Linked DNA regions of Homo sapiens: region 1 is linked to region 2. Evidence: fine-mapped expression QTL. A gene starts in region 2. The other region holds a variant in brackets. All regions are shown on one strand. Distances are between the middles of the regions.

Region 1 (8,344 bases), 66 kb before region 2:
GGATACCTTCAGGTTCACTAATTATTTATTTAGTTGTATCTAATCTTCTATTTCAATCATCAATTTTTTTAAAATTTGAACAATAATATTTGATTTTTAAAACTTCTATTTTATTTCTTTTCAAATCTTCCAGGTCATTTCTTAAAGAAATGTGTTAACACGCTGGGCGTAGTGGCTCACGCTTGTAATCCTAGCACTTTGGGAGAACGAGGTGGGCGAATCACCTGAGGTCAGGAGTTCGAGACCAGCCTGGCCAATATGGGGAAACCCCATCTCTACTAAAAATACAAAAATTAGCTGGGCATGGTGGTGGGCGCCTGTAATCCCAGTTACTTGGGAGGCTAAGGCATGAGAATCGCTTGAACCCAGGAGGCAGAGGTTGCAGTGAGTCAAGATTGCACCACTGTACTCCAGCCTGGGTGACAGAGCTAGACTCCATCTCAAAAAAAAAAAAGAAATGTGTTAACAGTGTTTACTCTCTTAGAGGTTAGACCACTTTCTTTACTTATATACCATTAAATTTTTGGCAAGCATCTATAGCTTTTTCTTTCTCCCTCTCCCTTTATTGATTGATTGATTGATTGAGGCAGAGTCTTGCTCTGTCTCCTAGGCTGGGGTGCAGTGGTGCAATCTTGGCTCACTGCAACCTCTGCCTCCAGTGTTCAAGCAATTCTCCCTGCCTCAACCTTCCAAACAGCTGGGATTACAGGCGTTTGCCACCACGCCCCGCTAATTTTTGTATTTTAATAGAAAAGGGGTTTCACCATGTCAGCCAGGCTGGTCTCAAACTCCTGACCTCAGGTGATCCGCATGCTTTGACCTTCCAAAGTGCTGGGATTACAGGTGTGAGCCACCGTGCCCACCCACCGTATATTATATAATATACTTTTATTTTTAAAATATAACTGTTTCATGTTTGCTTGAGAAGGATATATATTTTCAAATGTTTAAATCCAAGTTTTTGTAAATGACCAATAAATATATATACTGTATCTTATATATAGTATATATAAATATATACTGTATCTTATATATAGTATATATAAATATATACTGTATCTTATATATAGTATATATAAATATATACTGTATCTTATATAGCATATATAAATATATACTGTATCTTATATAGCATATATAAATATATACTGTATCTTATATAGCATATATAAATATATACTGTATCTTATATAGCATATATAAATATATACTGTATCTTATATAGCATATATAAATATATACTGTATCTTATATAGCATATATAAATATATACTGTATCTTATATAGCATATATAAATATATACTGTATCTTATATAGCATATGTAAATATGTACTGTATCTTATATAGCATATGTAAATATGTACTGTATCTTATATAGCATATGTAAATATGTACTGTATCTTATATAGCATATGTAAATATGTACTGTATCTTATATAGCATATGTAAATATGTACTGTATCTTATATAGCATATGTAAATATGTACTGTATCTTATATAGCATATGTAAATATGTACTGTATCTTATATAGCATATGTAAATATGTACTGTATCTTATATAGCATATGTAAATATGTACTGTATCTTATATAGCATATGTAAATATGTACTGTATCTTATATAGCATATGTAAATATGTACTGTATCTTATATATAGCATATGTAAATATGTACTGTATCATATATAGCATATGTAAATATGTACTGTATCATATATAGCATATGTAAATATGTACTGTATCATATATAGCATATGTAAATATATACTGTATCATATATAGCATATGTAAATATATACTGTATCATATATAGCATATGTAAATATATACTGTATCATATATAGCATATGTAAATATATACTGTATCTTATATATAGCATATGTAAATATATACTGTATCTTATATATAGCATATATAAATATATACTGTGTCTTATATATAGCATATATAAATATATACTGTCTTATATATAGCATATGTATATATACTGTATCATATATCGTATATATAAATATATATACTATAACTTACATATAGTATATATACTATCATATATATAGCATATATAAATATATATACTATCTTATATATAGCATATGTAAATATATATACTATATCATATATATAGCATATATAAATATATATACTATATCATATATATAGCATATATATACTACATCTTATATATAGCATATATATACTACATCTTATATATAGCATATATAAATATATATACTATATCCTACATATAGCATATATACTTATATATAGTATATATACTATCATATATATAGCATATATAAATATATATACTATCTTATATATAGCATATGTAAATATATATACTATATCTTATATATATAGCATATGTAAATATATATACTATATCATATATATAGCATATATATACTACATCTTATATATAGCATATATAAATGTATATACTATATCCTATATATAGCATATATAAATGTATATACTATATCCTATATATAGCATATATAAATGTATATACTATATCCTATATATAGCATATATAAATGTATGTACTATATCCTATATATAGCATATATAAATGTATGTACTATATCCTATATATAGCATATATAAATGTATGTACTATATCCTATATATAGCATATATAAATGTATGTACTATATCCTATATATAGCATATATAAATGTATGTACTATATCCTATATATAGCATATATAAATGTATATACTATATCCTATATAGCATATATAAATGTATATACTATATCCTATATAGCATATATAAATGTATATACTATATCCTATATAGCATATATAAATGTATATACTATATCTTATATATAGCATATATAAATGTATATACTATATCATATATAGCATATATAAATGTACTATATCTTATATATAGCATATATAAATATACTATATCTTATATATAGCATATATAATATATATACTATCTTATATATAGCATATATAATATATATACTATATCTTATATAGCATGTATAAATATATATGCTATATCTTATATAGCATGTATAAATAAATATGCTATATCTTATATAGCATGTATAAATAAATATGCTATATCTTATATAGCGTGTATAAATATGCTATATCTTATATAGAGTGTATAAATATATATACTATATCATATATATAGCATATATAAGTATATATGCTGTATTTTATATATAGTATATATAAATATATATGCTATATCTTATATAAAATTATATGATATACTTTTATTTTTAAAAGTATATTATATAAAAATAAAATAACATAATATGTTTTGTTAGGAAGAATCTATTTGTATTTGCAATTAGCAAAGGGATTAGACTAATAATGGAACTGATTTCTCTCCCTGTCACACGATGAATTAAATGGAATTCTGCAGGGGAGGAATGCGAGGCCACATAATGATTGGATATTACTAAATTACAGTTAGAGAAAGTATGTGTTCTGTTGAAACATACAAGGCAAAGAAAAGAAAGAGGTTAGTATTTCTGTTAGTTTAGTGAGGTAAAAAAAACGTGTGATTTCACCTTTCTTCCCAGGTTGGAAGATCTGCTCTGAGTTCGTGGGAAGCTATTGTGGGCCTCTGATCTTCCTGGTTTCTAACAGTGAGACTGCAAAAAAAAGACATTCACATGTTGACAGCTCAGTCCCTGCCAAGAAAAGATTTTTTACAAATACTTTAAAGAGAACTTCAGATCCCCAAGTATTAATAGAATTTCTTCCTCTACTTGGAAAAAAAAATGACCCCAGTTAGTTTTCCCAAGCAAACCAAAAGTGTGACAATAAGGTACTAGAAATATAAATAAACGTTGTGGTTTCTACTATTGAGAAAGAGTTAGAAATTATTGTGTTCA[A/T]TTATACTTAGAATAATGATTTTTTAAATAAAAACATTCATTAGAAAATAGTAAAAAAGGGTTCGGCGCGGTGGCTCATGCCTGTAACCCCAGCACTTTGGGAGGCCAAGGCAGGAGGATCACTTGAGGCCAGGAGTTTAAGACCAGCCTGGGCATCATAGCGAGACCCTGTCTCTATTTAATACAAAAATTAAAAAAATGAAAATAGTAAAAAAGTAAGACTGTCAGGAATGTATTGGGGTTTCATTTCATTTTCTGCATCTTAAAAAGTATACATCCTCTAGGCTTTGTTTCCAGTCAAAATGGAGGCTTCATATATTTATAGGCAAATATACAAAAGTAGTAGAGAAAAATAAAGTGCATAATCAAAATCTATTGTATTTCTCTAAAGAGTTTGTTTTCTTATACACATTCTGTACATTTGTCTGTAAACTTATTCCAAGTATTTTTGTTGTTATCGTAAATGGAATTTGTACTTTTATCTCATCTTGTAACTGGTTATTGTTGTAATATGAATGCTATTTTTTTTTTTTTGGAGACCAAGTCTTGCTCTGCTGCCCAGGCTGCAGTGCTGTGGCGCAATCTCAGCTCACTGCAACCAAGCGATTCTTGTGCCTCAGTCTCCTGAGTAGCTGGGACTACAGGCATGTGCCAACACGCCCGGCTACTTTTTGTATTTGGTTTCACCATGTTGGCCAGGCTGGTTTCAAACTCCTAACCTCAAGTGATCCACCCACCTGGACCTCCCAAAGTGCTGGGATTACAGGCATGAGCCACCGTGCCCGGCCACTTTCTTAATCACTTTATTGAGCTATCATTCATATGCCGTCAAGTTTATCTGTTTAAAGTGTACAATTCAGTGGTTTTTAGTATACTCACAAAGTTGTGCAACCATCCCTACTATCTAATTCCAGAACATTGTCATCACCCCCAAAAGAAACCCCACCAGTAAGCAGTCACTGCTTATCACCTGTATCTCCCCACTCTACCGGCCCTAGGCAAGCACGAATCCGCTTCCTGTCTCTATAGATTTGCCTGTTGTGGAGCATACCGTATGTGATCTTTGCTGGCTGTCTCCTTTCACTTGGCGTAATGTTTTTGCACTTAGCCCATGCCGTAGCATGTATCGGCACTTCATTTCTTTTTCCAGTTGAATAATATCTCATTGTTTGGATAGACACATCACATTTCGTTTGTCCATTCATCAGCAGATAGACATTCGGGTTGTTTCCACATTTTGGCTGCATGAATCATGCTGCTATGCACATTCCTGTGCAAGTACGTGCGAACATATATTTGTGTTTCTCTCAAGTAGAAACCTCGGAGTAGAACTGCTGAGTCATATGGTAACTTGAGTTTTAACATTTTGAGGAACTCCCAAACTGTTTTACAAGGCAATTGCACCATTTCACATGGTAATATTTGAGGGATCCAATTTCTCCATGTCCTTGCCAACAGTTACTGTTGTCTTTTTTATTCTAGCTTCATAAGTGGGTGAGAAGTGGTATTTCATTGTGGTTTTGATTTGCATCTTGCTAATGACTACTGATGTGGAACATCTTTTCATGCATTTACTAGCTATTTGTACATCTTTGGAGAGATGTGTGTTCAGATGTTTTGACCATTTCTAAATTGATTTATTTGCATTTTATTATTGAAATGGAAGTGTTCTTCATTTTAAGACCTGAAGCCTACAGAGTATTATTTTAATGATAATTTTATATCCTTCTTATTTCTGAATTCTTCTGTATTTGTATCAGTTATAGCTATAATTCTCTTCGGGTTTCATCTGCAAATAGGAAGAATTTTACCTATTTCCAATTCTCAGGCCTCTAATTTTCTTGTCTAATTAGCTAACACCTAAAATACTTTTTTTTTTTTTTTGAGACGGGGTCTTGCTCTGTCTCCCAGGCTGGAGTGCAATGGCGTGATCTCAGCTCCCTACAACCTCCGCCTCCCGGGTTTAAGTGATTCTCCTCCCTCAGCCTCCTGAGTAGCTGGGACTACAGGCGCGCACCACCACACCCAGCTAATTTTTGTATTTTTAGTAGAGACGGGGTTTCACTATGTTGGTCCTGCTGGTCTTGAATTGCTGACCTTGTGATCTGCCCGCCTCGGCCTCCCAAAGTGTTGGGATTACAGGCGTGAGCCATCGCGCCTGGCCAAATACATTGTTAAATAGTAGTAGAGATTGTGGACATTTTGCCTTATTCATGATTTTTGCAGGAATGCTTTCAGCATCCCATCAACATGAAAATGGATTTTATCACTGACAATTTGGGTTTTCTTTATCTTGTTGCTACTGTATTTTCTATATTCTTTATTATATCTTTTCTTAACACTATTTTATAAAAGTTTTTCAGCCTGTTTTTAGCACAACTGTTTTATAAATTTTCAGTGTGTGTGTGTGTGTGTGTGTGTGTGTAGCTCTATTTTTCTTTAAAGGCAAAATCATTAGAAATGCAGGAACCCTTTTGACTTCTTTCTTTCATGATGTCAGGGCTAAATAGTTTCAGTAAATAATGGCTTCTTTAAAAAAAAATCCAACCAAAAAAAACTTGAGAGGCATCTGAGTGGTACGCTCTCTGCATGACTTCCGAGGCTTCTTTTGTAAGCAAAACACATTACTGCTCAGTGGGTATGAAAAAGCAGAGGAAAAAAGAGATGAATTTGACAGGAGTTCCTCAGAGAACCAGAAGCTGTACTGCAAACTAAATAATGCAAACTTATTTCAGCTTTGATATACTTTTTCCCTCATTTCAAGTAAGAATGTTTTAAAGAGACAATGTGGTTTTGAAAAAGAGAAGAATTTTTTTTTGTGAAGTTTTCTTTACCTCGGTCCACTGTTATTGTTACAGCAGACCTAGAAGATGTCTATAGTAGCCAAGATAGTTGCTCGCTGTGTTTTAGGAAGTTTCAGTAAAAGAAGACCCATGGCCAGATATATTTTGGTAAAATTTTGAGTGATAAAGAGAAAACTTACTAGAAAGGAAAAAAACTTTATATTCAACTGAACAAGAATCAGCATGCCTTCCCTTATAACACTAAATACCAGAAGGCCTTACAGCAAAATGTTGAGAAAGATTCACAAGTACTTAGAAAAGAAATTGCCATTTACTTTTCTTGAAAATTGACTTGACTATGTATATTAATATGGATAAATCTCAAAAGTGTGGTGAAAAAAAACAAGGAAATTCACTATTAAAACAGTTGAAGTTTGCTGTGTACTTTTCCCCATCTCATTTCTTCCTCTCTTTACCCTAGAGAGAGCCACCATTTTTAACTTACTGTTTACCATTCCAATTCATAATTATGCTACTATATTATATTCATAAACATATTTTTAAACATAGTATAAATGTAATTATGTAACATGTATTGCTTTATAATTTTTTTTCCCTCTAGCATATGAATTTATTTATTTCTGAGACAAGGTCTCACTCTGTTGCCCAGGCTGGAGTGCAGTAGCATGATCATAGCTCACTGCAGCCTTGAACTCCTGGGTTCAAGTGATCCTTCCACCTCAGCTTCTAGAGTAGCTGGGACTACAGGCACATGCCACCATGCCGGGCTAACTTTTTTTTTTTTTTTTTTTAGTGGAGACATGGTCTCGCTGTGTTGCCCCAGCTGGTCTCGAACTCCTGGGCTCAAACAATCCTTCTGCCTTGGCCTCCCAAAGTGCTGGGATTACAGGCATAAGCCACCACGCCTAACTTATTTATTTGTTTAGTTTTGTTTTTCTAGTATATGAATTTAAGTGCTGTATGGTAGTGGATTGTATAACTATACCACAATATATTCATCCATTCTCCTGTCTATACCCTTTAGAACCATTTTAAATTTTTCTCACTCAGATGAATGCTGTAGTGAATCTTCTCATACATGTCTCCTTTTTTTGCAGGGGTGTGAGAAGTTTTTCCAGGGTATAGGTTTTTCTTTTCTTTTTTTTTTGTTTTTGTTTTTCAGACAGAGTCTCACTCTGTTACACACACTGGAGTGCAATGGCACAATCATCATTCACTGCAGCCTCAACCTCCCTGGGCTCAAGCGATCCTCCCACCTCAGCCTCCTGAGTAGCTGGGACTACAGGTGTGCGCCACCATGCCTGGCTAATTTTTGTGTTTTATTTTTTATTTATTTATTTTTTTGAGATGGAGTTTTGCTCTTGTTGCCCAGGCTGAAGTGCAATGGTGCAATCTCGGCTCACCGAAACCTCTGCCTCCCAGGTTCAAGCGATTCTCCTGCCTCAGCCTCCTGAGTAGCTGGGATTATGGGCATGTGCCCCCATGCCTGACTAATTTTGTATTTTTAGTAGAAACGAGTTTTCTCCATGTTGGTAGGGCTGGTCTCGAACTCCCGACCTCATGTGATCTGCCGGCCTCGGCCTCCCAAAGTGCTGGGATTACAGGCGTGAGCCACCGCACCCAGCTGATCTTTTTTTTAAGGTGGGAATTGATTTTTGTATA
Region 2 (8,344 bases):
GTAAGAGCCCTGGGGAATGAGTCAGAAGTCTTCATTCTATTTTGGCCCCTAATTAGCTGGAGATCTCTGGCCCAGACCCTTAACCTCTCTGAATGTTTCCTCATCTGTAAAACGAAGGAGGTAGAATAAGTAACCTGATTTTCATCATTCTGTATTTTTGATATAAGGGGTGTTTCAGCTAAAACGTTTACAGTGATCTCAGACAAGTTAGCACTTCAAGCTCCTAAGGTACATTTTCAGATTCTCTTAAACTGGCTGTTCATCAGCCCTGGCAACACAGCGAGATCCTGTCTCTATAAAAAATTAAAAAATTAGCCAGGTGCGGTGGCAGGCACCTTAAGTCTCAGCTACTCCTGAGGCTGAGGTGGGAGGATCCTTTGAATCTGGGAGTTCAAGGGTGCAGTGGGCCTCAGTCGTGCCACTGCACTCCAGCCTGGGTGAGAGAGTGAGACCCAGCATCAAAAAAAAAAAAAAAAAAAAAAGACTGTTTTTCTAATTTGGATGATGGACATGTGTTTCATTATGCATACTCTTTATAGTATACAAAAATATGCATTCTGTTACTGATCTTATTTATAGTTTGAAGTCTAGCCAATTTAGCATCAATATAATAATAGTAATAACAGCTTTTGCTTGGTATGTGCCATCCCGTTATAAGAGCTCTATGTTATTAATTTACTGAATGCTGTCAGCTAGCACATTAGGTAGATACTCTTTTTTTTTTTTTGAGACGGAGTTTTGCTCTTGTTGCCCAGGCTGGAGTGCAGTGGCTCCATCTCGGCTCACTGCAACCTCTGCCTCCTGAGTTCAAGCAATTCTCCTGCCTCAGCCCCCAGAGTAACTGGGATTACAGGCGCCAGCAACCACACCCGGCTAATTTTTTGTATTTTTAGTAGAGATGGGGTTTCACCATGTTGGCCAGGCTGGCCTAGAACTCCTGACCTCACGTGATCCACCTGCCTCGGCCTCCCAAAGTGCTGAGATTACAGGAGTGAGCCACCGTGCTCTGCTGAGCTGCCGAGGTAGGTGCTCTTATTACCCCCATTTCACAGATGATGAAACTAACGCCCAGAGAGGATAAGTAACTAGTCCAAGTTTATGCAGTTAGGTTGGGATCTGAACCCAGTTACAGAGCTCAAGACTCCCACTGGTTTGGCAACACTGCCTCTCATATGCGTTACTAATACGTGATAAGAAAGATGTCACTTATGGCCAGGCGCAGTGGCTCACTCCTGTAATCCCAGAACTTTGGGAGGCGGAGGCAGGCGGATCACCTGAGGCCGGGAGTTCAAGACCAGCCTGACCAACATGGAGAAACCCCGTCTCCACTAAAAATACAAAAAATTAGCCGGGAGTGGTGGCGCATGCCTGTAATCCCAGCCCCAGCTACTTGGGAGGCTGAGGCAGGAAAATCTCTTGAACCCAGGAGGCGGAGGTTGCAGTGAGCCGAGATCGCGCCATTGCACTCCAGCCTGGGCCACAAGAGCGAAACTCAGTCTCAAAGAAAAAAAAAAAAGAAAGAAAGATGTCACTTAACGAACAGAAGATAAACAGGATGAGACCCCCAAAAAAATTAGGTTTGGAGAAAAAATATTTTAACAAAAATAGTAAATTGCAAACTATGGTTGTGCCAAAAAACTTACAGATAGAGTAATTTCACTAGAAATGTCCTTGTCAAGTTTGGGGCGGAAGTCAGACCGTTTTGCGAATTTGAACATTTGTTTAGTCAATTCCACGGTTTGGAGCCACTAGGGATGAAATGAAGCCAAGCCACGCCAGGGCCCTGCCACTTGTGTCCCAAGGAGGGTGGCTGGAGACTGATGCAGAAGCCCCTTCCTCCCCACACTCCGGGGCAATGAGGAGCCCGCGTGCAGGTGCCTAATTCCGCTAGCCAGTGGGCGAGGGTCCTGCTGGCACCGAGGGCACCAAGGCTGGGGTTTTGACACCAACGAACCCCAGCCAGGTGACTGGGGAACGTGGGGAGTTCGACAAAGAGCGATAGGCTTTTGCCATTTTTTTTTTTTTTTTTTGAGACGGAGTCTTGCTCTGTCGCCCAGGCCGGAGGGCAGTGGCGCGAGCTTTTGCCAAGTTACGAGACGGACAGGAATCGAGGAGATTCCCCTGTAGCGCTCTCCACCTTCCGGACAGAAATCCTGTAGACCACGTTCACTTCTCCACTCCGTGCATCGCCCGTGGCCCGTGGGCAGCAGCTGCTCCCCTGGGATCCCCCTCGCCTGTCCGCGAGCTCTCGCACGGCCGCGTCCCTGCTGCTGGGGTCGCTCGCTGGCCCTGGCTGCTCGCCAGGATTTTCCTTTGATGCTGTCAAGTCCGGGAAGCTCACGATGCACCTCAGTGCCCGCGCGCCGCCTCTCCCAAAGCCCCTTCCCCACTCACTCCCCCACAAGCGTGGAGGGAGATGGGGTAGGTCGCGGCGCCTATAGACCCCCTCCCGGCGCCCACTCTCTCTCTTCCACTTCTCTAGCAGCGGTAGGGCCGCAGCGCACGCAAACCTTTCCCCAAAACGCCCACCCCACTCTCAGCTAGCCGCTTCTCTCAGGGCTCCTCCGCCCGAGCTGGGTGTGGGGATCGCCGCGCACACAGAGACGGGAAAGCCACCCCGGTCCCGGAGCGCCGCTTCCCTAGAGGCCCCTGGCCCGTCCGCTCCCCCAGCGCTGGAGGACAGCCGCGCACACAGACCCTCCCCTCCAACGCCCACCGCGGTCCCCAGCTGCAGCCTGCACCTCCACTTCCCGCCCCCAGTCTCCCGCCCTCCGCCCCCTGCTTTCCAGTCTCCGCAGTCCGGGCGCCCAGACTTGTTTCGACTTCCCAGGGCAGCTCCGAGGGTGCGGAAGATCAAGTGCCCGGGTTTGTTCCAGGAAAATCCCGGCGGCGCCTGCACGTTAACTGCCCTGGCGCAGGCGAAGGGTGGAGGGCACTTCTCTGTTCATTCGGTTTTCAAGAGCGTGAACAGAGGCTCCGAGTGAACGCCCATACCTAGTCGGTCTTCTAGGGTCCACGCGTGGGGCGTCCACTTCCTCACCCTGCCCCTCGGTGCCCCTGCCCTGGTTGCACTTCTCCTAAAAGGAGGCGCTACGATTCCAGGAGGCTCTGTCTCCTTACCCTTCCCAGCGGCGCTCAAACCACCAGCCCCGGGCGCCCAACCCCTTCCTTGTCCTCTCCCTATCCCGTGAGAAAGCCGACGCTTCCACCCGCCTGGTCTTTCCGAAATACGCTTCGGGTGGTCAATGCGATTTCTAGGGTCTAAAGACTAGACTCCCGCGTTCCCCACCAAGACACCGACGCGAAGCCGCAGAGGTGGAATCGCGGACGCCCTGGCAGGCCCGGGACATATTGATCCTGGTGGCGCGATGCCCCTCTTCGCACGCGGACGCACTCGCAGCCCCACTCCCCCAAACTCGCACTGCGGGAAGGAACCCCCGACTCGCACCGGCTCCCGCCCCGCAGCAACGGCGACACCCTGAGGTCCGGACGAGCGGCGCGCCCCTCCCAGCCTCGGCCACTTTCCAGCACGAAGCCTCAGGGCGAGCCCGAGACGAAGAAAGAGAGTTCGAGGAACTGGGATACTCACGAGCCCACCGTCCACCCTGCCGGCCGGGGAGGAAGCCCCGGCCGGCTCGCCTCCGTCCGCCGTGCGCATGCGTCCCGCGGGTGCCTTCTCAATATTGCAGCGCGGAGGGCTGCCCTCTCTACGTCGGCGATTGCTCACCGCGCCTTTCGCCTTTCTCCGGCTCTCGGTCTTTGCTCTAGCCCTCTTCTCCCGGCCTCTTCCTCCCCTTGCTCTGCCTCCTCCCCGCCCCCTCACTCCTTTTACCCGGCCGGGCAATCCCACGTCTCGCCTCCCTCCAGCGGCGGCGCACTCCACCGCCGCGGGTGCTAGGGGTACCCCCGAGGCCCCACGCGGGGCGCGACCTCCACCCCGGCCGCAGCCCCACTGCTCCAGCCCCGCATTAGCAAGTCCCAAGAGTGTGGATGCGAAGCCAGGCGCGCGTAGAGGGCGTCCGCGAAGCCCTCTGTGTCATCGCCTCCCCTCGGCGCGCGGGGCCGAGCGAGACTAGAGTGTGCTGGACTGCGTGCTCGGACCTCGTGAATGAAGGGAGCGGGAGGAAGGAGCGGGGGTGGGCGGCAGGCATGGAGGGGGCGCTTGGTCCCCAGAGCTTCGCGTCTGTGGACTGCGCGTCTCTGGAGGGCAGCCCCCTACCTTCTCCCCGGCCCGGGGCGCCTCTCTGAGCTCTGTCCCCGCCCCACCCCGGCGCAGCCTAGGCCTCCGGTCTTCCCGCCCTGGAAAGCGGCCCTCGCCCCCTCCCAGCTAGCCAGAGCGCGGAGGCCCCACCCAGCAACCGAGCGGGGGATAAGGGGGGGAACTAACCCCTGACTCCAGATCCCGCTGAGACCCTCGGCAGTCGCCCTCCGCGTCCCCTTCTCCAGGGACTCCGGAGTCCGGGGAAAGGAGTAGACCAGGGGGCAGCGGGAGGGGGAACCCAGCCGCCCAGCTCTCCGGACTCGCAGCACCGCGTGTCCCCGTAGCCCGCAGCGTCCCTTCGGGAGTGGGACCCGGTGGGGCCGCGGGGTTAGTTCCCTGGAGCCCGGAGGGCTAAGCTGAAGCTGGAAACTGACCTGACACAAAAATAACATCACGTCATTTCCTCCCTTGCCTGCCGAGAGGGCAGGGGAGTGGGAGAGCGAGCGCTGGGAGCAGGCGGAGGCGCGTTTGGGGGAGGCTCGGAGTAGGCGGAGGAGAGCGACACGCTGAGAGTTTGAAAGGCAGCCTCGGGGAAGAGCGAGGGCTCCCTCCCGTTTTCTTGGACCATGGAAAGGAAATGGCCCAGGAAAAAGTAGCTTGGAGTGTCTTCCCGCGGGGAGGGGCGGTGTCCCGGGAGCCGCCAATGTCCCGTCCTAGGACTTGCCCAGCCACGTCCCGGCCTTCCCGACCTTGCCACCCTCCCTACTGCTAGCCCCAGCGGAGCGGGTCAGTTGGGGTTAGGAAGAATCGGGAGAGGCTGGTGTCCTGGGGAGGCTGGGTGTGGGGCGTAGTGGAGACCACGGTACTCACCGGCATAGGCGAGCTCTGCCCAGCGGTGGCGTCTTCTTCCCTGGGCTTGGCTACCGGATGGGGGGGCCTCAGCGGACGACCCCCCGAGGGTCGGCCGGGCAGTGCCAGCGCCGCCCCGAGCAGGAGCGAGAGGCGGCCCGGCAGCTCCTCGTGCCCCCTCGAGAGCCGGGCGGCCGGCAGGGCGGGAAGCAGGGGGGAGAAGTCCAGGCGCCTCCGGGGAGCCTCGGGAGGGGGTCGCCGGAGAAGGTGAGAGAAGAACCTTGCGAGGCTGGAAAGCGGGCTAGAAAGGAGGCCGAACAGCTTCGGGGCGGCGGGCGAGTCTGGGAGCTGTGCAGGCGGGAAGGACTGGGGTGGGGAGAGAGAAACAAAACCAGCATACGGTTACTGTGGTGTCCGGCCGCTTAGATGGGGCTCTTTACTACAGAATTTTGAAGCGTTACTTTGGGGGTGCAAGAGAAGGTCGGTGAAAGCAGAAGGAAAGGCCTATAGTTAGATTCTTTCCCCTCCCACTCCTGTATTTCCTAACTCCGTGCTACTTGAAGTGTGGTCCGTAGGCCAGCAGCTTCGCCAACACCTAGGAGCTTGTTAGAAATAAAGACTCTTGAGCCCCACCCAGCCAATGCATCGGAATCTGCATGGTAACATTCCCAGGGGACTACCATGCGCGCTGAATGTGACATGCGGTATGCAGAAGGGTCTGTGTTCACATCGCCTGGTTCTTCAGAATTTGGATGAAAATCTTAGTTCACTTTTGTAACTGTTGCTCTTCCCCTCCCTTCTCTGGTCTTCCCTTGTTCCCCCTGCCCTTTCCCATCTCCCTAAGTGCCCAGGGCTCTGCCTGCCAGAGGCACAGAGTTGGCCTTGGCTACTAGATTCTATTGGGATTGTTGTCTATGGAAGGTCCAGATAGTGGCTGAAGGTGGCTGAAGGGCCTCAGACCCTCCACAGGCTGGTTGGAAAAAGGGACTGGCCAGTGCGGCTGTAGGTATGTTGCGTGGAGCTGGGGACACCGGGATTCCATGTTAGGGCTGCTACTACAAGTGAACCCTCTGCAGACCTCCTTTCCAAACTCCATGTGTCCTTCTTATTCCCGGGAACACCGGCCTTTCCACCTTCCACTTGTTGCTTAGGAGACCTAAGCAATGAGATATTTTTTTTCTTTTGGAAAGTGGAGGGAAGCACTAGTTTAGAAGTCAGAAACCCACGGTTCTACACTCAACCTTGCCACTAACTTAATGGCTAACCTTGGGAATGTCTCTTTATTTTTTGAGTTCATTTATAAAGGGGTTGAACTCAGTGGCTTTTTAAGGTCACCTGCCACGTTCAGACTGTCATCTTTGAGACGCTCTTAGTTTCTTGGTACACTAACGTTTAGTGTAGTTACAAACCGGAATGTAGCTCGGCCAATCCAAACACCCCCTCATGCCAAACAAAAAACAATTTAATCTGTCTGTGAAAAACAAGAGCGGTGGTTGCCAAAAAAAATGAAGGTGGAGGCGGGAAGCAGCGAATAAAGTGCTGGGGTGGTGAGGCGCGGGAGGCGAGCGCGGGTGTTCTGGGTTGGGCGTGGGTCCCAGGGGCGCGGCGGCCGCTCTCCAGGGTCCTGAAGGCGGGAGCGGTCGCGAGCGGCCTCGTGGGCCTGGCGCGGTTCCCTCACTCCGCAGTCACCAGGCCCGGCCTGTATTCTTTCGGCGGTGGAAGTCTTGTGGGAAGCGATTGTCAGGAGAGAGGGAAGGAAACCTAGCAACCCATTCTCATTCATGAGGCCCTTTCTGGGAAGCCGCGAGTGCGGTGGCTGATTTGTCTTGCTGTCGTTTGTTTGCTCCTGGGTGAGTTGAACTCGGTTTGCATTTCCGAGTAAGTTCACACTGTTTCACTTCCCCTCATTACCTTTTCCTGGAGAATGGGGTCGTTCTCCCAGTATTTTCATTCTCCTCGTTCAGCTGCTCCCCTCCCCCGCTCTCTGGCAAGGTGCTTTTATTTTAGGGGCTGGAGCTGGGAGCCGAGGAGGCTTCTGGAGAAGCGCCAACAGCTCCCTCGAGGGGGAAAGTGGGCGACTTGGAAATCGGTCTTGGCGCCCAGGGAACGAGCTGCTGAGCGTTCGTCTCGCTCGGGAGGAGGACAGGGGACGCGCCCCTCCGGCTGGGGCTTGGGGTGGAGGCTCAGCTGCCGCCAAGCGTGCTCGGCCTCCGCCGGGCAGCTAGTCCTGGGCGGCACCTGCGGGGGACTGCGGGCCGGCGGCCGCGTCTGCGCCCCACTCCGGAGCGAGGGCCCTCGGCGAGGGCGGGAACTTCGGCGGCCACGGGCGGCAGGGCCGGCGGGACCCCACGCTAAGAAGTCGAGAGAGGACCAGCCGGGTTCCTGGCGACCTAAAGCCTGACTGAGCCCACCCACGGCCTTCCCGACCCTACGCAAGGGCTTGAAAAAAGCCGAAAATGCTGAAAGAGAGCGCCCAGCACTGTTCTGCGACGCACGCCCAACTTCGAGGAGCCCGAGCGAGCTCCAAAGCCTTTCGTGGGTCCCAGAATTTGGCGTCTCCAGCTCATGTTTTCAAATGGTTTTGTGAGAACGTGCGAACTCGTAACCTCCTTTCTCCCTTCGCCCCAGTCCTTCTTCCCAAGTCACTTGCAAGCCCCTGCCCCTTCCTCAGGCACGCTTCATTAGGCATTTTGCTTCGGTCCTGTGCTTCGAGACAGAGACTCTTGTGAGGCAAGTGGTGGAAATGGTCAGACAGAATAAAAGTCCCAAACCTGATCCAAGAAAAACAAGACTCGGCTCCTTTGCTCCTCTGGAGACAGTCACCGCTTGCCGGCCCCACACTGGCCTCCGGATCAGCCGCCTGCTCCCCTGCTACTCTGAAGCCACCGCGAGCCTGGCGCGGGACCCAGCGGCTTCTCCAGTTAGGGGAGGGGATGAGGGTGAATCAAGCAAGGTGTGGGGCGCTGGAATCCTTCCGAACTTCTGGCAAGGACAGAGCCGAAGAGTATCAATGTAGCCAAAAAATTCGATCTGAGAAAAGTTATCTGCAGAAAGACCTTCAGCTGCCCGAAGGGCTGCACTTCAGAGAGCCTTGTCCTCCTTTTAGGCCAGATTCTATTTGACAGTCTGAGGACTGTCAAAAAATAGCCACAAAATGGAATCATCAGTACCGTATTCCTGGAAGCACTGGTCCTTAGGGATCCAGAATACTTGGGGAATACTTTATTCTGATTGAACCACCACTTCCCTAATCAATCATGTTGGCTACTGAACAGCAACCAGAGTGCCTTTATG

Which allele goes with the higher level. Positions count from the first base shown, and alleles are read on the strand shown. Sizes are in standard deviations (SD) of each study's normalised expression.
With allele T in place of A in region 1, the expression in subcutaneous fat of the gene that starts at base 3,802 in region 2 is higher (small effect, 0.23 SD a copy in GTEx).

Evidence for each region. PIP is the estimated chance that this variant, and not a neighbour inherited with it, causes the effect.
Region 1: its variant is fine-mapped to the expression of RGS20 in subcutaneous fat (GTEx, PIP 0.98).

Annotation. Positions count from the first base shown.
Region 1 is chr8:53,941,956-53,950,299 of GRCh38, reverse strand. It overlaps RGS20 (regulator of G protein signaling 20), which reads right to left. Exons shown (of 5, transcript NM_003702.5): 3 at 3,552-3,635. Among named protein-coding and RNA genes, the nearest start is that of RGS20, 65 kb to the right of the region's middle. RefSeq lists enhancers at 4,907-5,046, 5,057-5,106, 4,937-5,231, 4,692-5,891 and a silencer at 4,937-5,231. The variant A/T (reference allele first, on the strand shown) is at 3,879.
Region 2 is chr8:53,876,330-53,884,673 of GRCh38, reverse strand. It overlaps RGS20 (regulator of G protein signaling 20), which reads right to left and starts at 3,802. Exons shown (of 5, transcript NM_003702.5): 1 at 3,590-3,802. The coding sequence starts at 3,658. RefSeq lists enhancers at 110-159, 2,293-2,362, 2,640-3,271, 3,272-3,903, 4,551-4,845 and 1 more and silencers at 3,853-3,962, 4,093-4,142, 4,223-4,362.